2 separate regions of the Homo sapiens genome follow, and region 1 is linked to region 2. A link means that fine-mapping ties the variant in region 2 to the expression of a gene that starts in the linked region. Tissue or cell type: sun-exposed skin. Region 2 holds a variant in brackets; the other region holds the start of a gene. All regions are shown on one strand. Distances are from middle to middle.

Region 1 (2,920 bases), 130 kb after region 2:
TATGTGACTTGCAGCTCCAATGATACTGGCTGTGTGACTTGTGCATATCACTTCATCTTTCTGGGCCTCAGTTTCTCTGTTTTGAATAAAGTAATCAATTAAACGATTTCTTCAGGATCCTTACAGCCAGAAAGACACCAAGAATATATAGAAGTTCCAGCCTGACCAACATGGTGAAACCCCGTCTCTACTAAAAATACAAAAACTAGCCAGGTGTGGTGGTGCATGCCTGTAATCCCAGCTACTCAGGAGGCTGAGGCAGGAGAATCGCTTGAACCCGGGAGGTGGAGGCTGCAGTGAGCCGAGATCGCGCCACTACCCTCCAGCCTGGGCAACAGAGCAAGGCTCTGTCTCAAAAAAAAAAAAAAAGAAGAAGAAAAGAAAGAAAAAGAATATATAGAAGTCTGCCAAAGATTATATAGCATTACAACCCAATGCATTTGTGGTGGCCCCAAGGGATGACTATCAGTACTGTCATAATAAACTCAAACAGACACACACACACATACACACATGCACACACACACAGAGGAAACATTTCCTTCCACAACTAAGAATGATATAACCTTTTGAGCATGAAAAGAAAAATGATAGCTAAAATTAGCATCTTAAAAAGTAAACTACATAATAACTGAAGATGAGATTTCCTTAAAACTGTAGAACAATGAGATACTATGATAGCTGTCACAAGAGAGGAAATTGCATGAGTGTATTTGAAAGGATTTGGGGGTGTTTTTCCCCCATTGAGATTTGCTTTTCTACATACCACAGTGTGACTGAAAAGCTAAAATATTTCCCCAGGGCCTGTATGATCTGTGCCTCACTACGCTGCCTCTGACATTTGGAGAGTGTCATTTAGCCCCGAATTAAAACCTGCTTATACAGAGATCTGGAGGATGTCTCAGGCGCCAAGTAGTCATCGCTGTCTCATTTGCCTATCACCTTTCAGTTTACAACTCCCCTTTACATACATGCCCTCGTTTGTTCTCTAAAAACAGCCCTGTTTGATGGGACCTATATATTATTATGAAATTTCCCTCAGATGAATTCAAAAATAACCCTCTCAAACTGCCTGCAAAGAAATAATCACCTTTTGTTTGCCATTTAACGGTTCAGAAAGGCTTTTCACTTCTTTTGGCTTTTGGGGATAAGGTATGACCTGCTGGGTTCTATAATAGAGGAAGAGGGAAGAAGGAATCAAATCTAATCTTGGCCTTAACCTGCTGATCCAATTGGAACAAATCACTTCAATTGACCAAGCTTCAGTTCACTAAGCCACCAAATGGAGAAAATTATACCCATCCTACTGCACTATAGGGCAGTTAAGATCAAAATCAATATATAGATAAGTATGTCAAGTGGCTTTATAGGCTAAAAAATGCTAGCCTACAAGCCTCATCAACCCTGGACAGTAAGGAAGAATAGGGAAATTTCACATGGTAATGCAAAACTACAAACCTAAACCAAACTGCAAGTCAGTGGGGGAGGTGACCAGAAACTCGGCTTAGGGGACAGAAGCAATTGGTTCATAGAGAAATAACCCATCTCTGCAGAACCAGTGACAAGCCACTTGATCTTACCTGACTAGGCTGGTCCTCAAGGCTCTTCTTTCTCTTTCTGCACAAAGGGGGCTAGACCACAGATAGTGGCCAGGAGAGGTGTGATTGGCTCAGATAAAGCCAGGCAAGACAGTGCCCTGTGCTGTGACCCCACTCAGTCTGAATCTCACTTCACCAAGTAGGCTGAGAGTTACACTGCCACCCTCAAATAGTCAAATGAAAGGACTGAGGATGTTTACAGGGTGGAACTCAACCCGTCAGAGGCAGAGAATTGGGTTTGTGGGTGGGGCCTTTCTTGTTCTGCAATGACACACCTTTACCTCCTGTCCTCTCCCTCAAGAAGTCCTGCATTTTTCTGCCAACTCCCTCTAATACACATCCAGCTGAGGGAGCAGGAGCAGCCTATCATCCATTCCTCCATGGCTTCTGTATGCCTCCAAGTAGTTATAATTAAGCTTAAGCCTGAGGCCTACACTCCTATCATTAATATTCTTTATGATGGCTTGATTTATTGGATATTTGTGATTTTAAGCATCACTACCACTCTTGTCAAAAATGTAGAAGACATGTAGAGCAGTGTATCTCTGAAAACAAACACATGTACACACAATCTCTGGTCAGTATTCCTATTAGGAAATGTGCCACATGATATTGTCTCTATGTAAGTGTGTATCCCCCTCCCTAGATGGGGGGCCCCTTGAGGGCAATGCTACATCTTATTCTCTCATATACTCCTCAAAACACCCAGCAGATAGTAGGTAATAAATAAATACACATTGAATTAATGATGATCCATTAATATCTATTTAGTGAATCCTGATCTGTCATTTAATGGCTTTGCAGCCTATAGCAAGTCATAATCTATCTTTCTGAGGTTTTTTAATTTTGGTCATCTGTAAGTTGAGAGTATCATTTCTCCTTCAGAAATGCAGATAGAACTTGAAAGGAAGCATATGAGAATAAACCTAGGATAAGATTTGACATAGCAACGGTGCTAAAAAAATGAAATAGAATCTTAATGAACACATTCTGAAACCTAAGCAAGTGTGTTCTACATACAGAGTTGGTATAAAATAAAGTATGAACTGCACAAGTAGGTGGATTGCTGAAAGAAAGGAGAGCACAGAAAACAAAATGCTGTTATGTGTATGATTGAATTTCAATCTTCTATCCTAAATTCTCTACTTCATTCAGCAGACTCTGGCCAAATCAGATTGTATTTGTTTGATGGCTGGAGGAACGGGTGTGCGCTGACAAAGTAAATTGGTTGAATTCCATTCTTTTAAAAGAAAAATAACTAATATTCACCCTTCAAAAAATGTTGTTTAAAGTTCCAGGAATACTGAGGTCATGAAGCGATT
Region 2 (2,920 bases):
TGTCATCATTCATGGGTGAAAAAAGCCTGCCTACGGATCCCAGTCAGTTATCAGAAGAAAACCTCTGTCTCAAAACAAACTATGCATTCTTAAATATACTCAATATGAGCAATTTTGAGACTATAGGAAAATAAGGAAGCACTGGATGTGAAGGAGACAATTACAAACAAGTTAAGTTGTCAGGGTGAGAAGATTGGGTCTTTGGCCAGGTGCGGTGACTCACGCCTGTAATCCCAGCACTTTGGAAGGCTGAGGTGGGTGGATCACCTGAGGTCAGGAGTTTGAGACCAGCCTGGTCAACTTGGTGAGACTCCCATCTCTACTAAAAATACAAAAATTAGCCGGGTGTGGTGGTGGGAGCCTGTAATCCCAACTACTTGGGAGGCCAAGGCAGGAGAATCACTTGAACCCAGGAGGCAGTGGTAGCAGTGAGCCAAGATCATGCCACTGCACTTCAGCCTGGGCAACAGAGCGAGACTCTGTCTCAAACAAAAAGAAGAAGAAGACTGGGTCTTTCTCACTGAGCTGCTATGATGGGTTAATTAAAGTCCTAAGTAAAGGTTGCCAACATCAAATTATCAAGCAAATAAATATTTGGAAGTTTTCTTTCTGAAATTATACTCGGTATAAATCATGACTTTCACTAGCTTGTGTCTTTGGGCATTTCACACCACCTTTCTGATCTGTAGGTCACAATAATTTTGTGAAAAACAGGAGGATAACGGATGATAAAAAGTTTTGTTTCTGTAAGGCACTGTCCCACCAGCATATATTGAGTGTCTACTATGAACCATACTACCCACTCTGTACTGTTAGAGATCTTATATTTTTTATTTTATTTAACCCATATAGTAATTTTGAGCTACTTTTGAAGACATAGATGTAGTTACAGGAAATAAGTTAAAGAATATCACCAGACTTAATCAGATCATCAAGTCAAGAACCACTAGTGAAATGTAATTTTAAAAAAGGGGCAGGGAAAGGAAAAACACCAGAATCACTGGACATAAACAAAACCAGAGAAGCAAATCTCTAGCACAGAGGAAGTATTGGGATGTTTTATGCTTGTCTTCACCTATTGATACCTCTTCTTCCACCTGTATCCGGGTCCAAGGATGCTTCTTATGTGTCAGCTTCTGCTTTCCATCAATGTTTTCATATGTAAGATTTCTACTTGAATCTAAATCCATCAGAAAAACTTCCATTCAGATAGCTTAAATAAGCTCTTCAATTCTCTTTTCTTCAGTCTGAATAAGCCTAACTTCTTAATTATATTTTCTGATGGGTTAAAAGTAATCTTTTAAATCACCTCAGAGCTGATCCTCTAAAACATTCCAAAGTTCTCCATTTTCAATTCCACCATTTTCTTAGCACATTCTCTATGCAGGGTATAGAGAAAGGAATAAGACTCAGTGCCTGAACTCTGTAAGCCCATGATCTGACAATCTATGAGCCGATTTTACTATCAATTTGTTCCCAGACCTCAAAAAGCACAAATAGAAACTTGCAAGTCTCATTTCAGAAATAGAGGATCACTTATTTCAATTATTCCCACTTTCTATCCTCAAGGAAA[A/C]CAGCTGGATCTGGCCTCCATTCCCACAGTAGTGGAAGTAAGAAGGACAATGTACTCTTTACTTCTAGTAAGTTCCAAAGCCTCCCAGAAAGAGGCAGAGGCAGGGGAAGGGTCCCATAAGGACTTGGTGGAAGAAGGTTTGTAATAGTCATGGATGTTTAGGATCCTAAACTATCTGAGTTGGAAGGCCTTTTGGAGAGGTCAGTTTCCAATTCTTTGATTTTATAGATATGTAACTGAGACTAGAGTTTTCAAAGATCACAGTTCTTACTTTAGTCATGTTAATTACATGTTTCACTCAGTGACTCAGATTCAGAGTTCTACTCAAACACCGTTGTTGGCAGGATAGAAGACCAGAGCAATTACTACTTTAAATCATCATAGCAGACCAATAGAAGTTTTGCTTTCTACACACAAAAAAAGCAAAGACATGCTGAAGGGGTGAGTTTTATACAGTAGAAACTGCTCATACTAGTGGCAAAGCACACAGTCATGAAAAACAAATATGGCTTAACAACACAAAAAGCAGCTACAGGTTGGAAGAAGGAAACACATTCTTTGATAACCAACTTTGTAAGAGAATAAATTATTTTTGACAGGAAAGACTCCTCTCCTCCAAGTTGTTTTTAGCTGAGCTAGAAAATATGCCAGTCAGTCCTCAGTCTGAGTTAATATACTCATTCCGTGCATTCTTCTTTCTTCAGAGAGAAGCCACAGGTCCTCTTGCATAGGGCAACATAGCTGGCTTCCTCTCCCTGGACTTCTCACTCTCCTTCTACCCTGGCCTCCAAAGAGTCTCTGTTAAGGCACTAACCTACCTGTTAGCAAAACTGAATGAGGACACCTAGCTCCCTAGAAGGAAAGATGGCAGCTTTCATTATTACCTCCATCAGCTGCCCCTCCTTTCTACTCATCTCAAATCTCAAAGCTCCACCACAGAATTAAAAACATAGCTCGAGGCACCAAACCGAGATTTATGAGGAAGCACAGACATTAACTCTTGCTCTAAACGCAGGGCGTGTGCTTGTAAGTATGGGTGAGCAAACAGAGGGAGGCTGTGAGTGGGAGGAGGCGGGCGGGCGATGGGGAGAGAGCAACTCAGAACAACATGATCTATTTTCTTAATGTCTCCTTTCCCCCTACCTTAGAGCAAGTATTGTTGAAAGGCAGACTTCTAGGCCCATGAAATGTTAGTCTCTTGCTTATTTAATCTGGACAAAAGCAGGGACAGAGTTGGCACCCTGGAGGGTATTCAATGCTCCTTTGCTCATTGAATGACCTCAGAGGAAATATTTTCCATGACAAGAACCCAAAAGACGCTGGCACAGAGTCAGACAATAAGATTTG

Evidence for each region. PIP is the estimated chance that this variant, and not a neighbour inherited with it, causes the effect.
Region 1: TPRG1 starts here. The variant in region 2 is the best candidate, but not a certain one, in a credible set for the expression of TPRG1 in sun-exposed skin (GTEx, PIP 0.65).

The regions. Positions count from the first base shown.
Region 1 is chr3:189,170,792-189,173,711 of GRCh38, reverse strand. It overlaps TPRG1 (tumor protein p63 regulated 1), which reads right to left and starts at 1,741. Exons shown (of 6, transcript NM_198485.4): 1 at 1,581-1,741.
Region 2 is chr3:189,304,607-189,307,526 of GRCh38, reverse strand. The region is part of intron 4 of TPRG1 (tumor protein p63 regulated 1); the gene reads right to left. Among named protein-coding and RNA genes, the nearest start is that of TPRG1-AS2, 65 kb to the right of the region's middle. The variant A/C (reference allele first, on the strand shown) is at 1,574.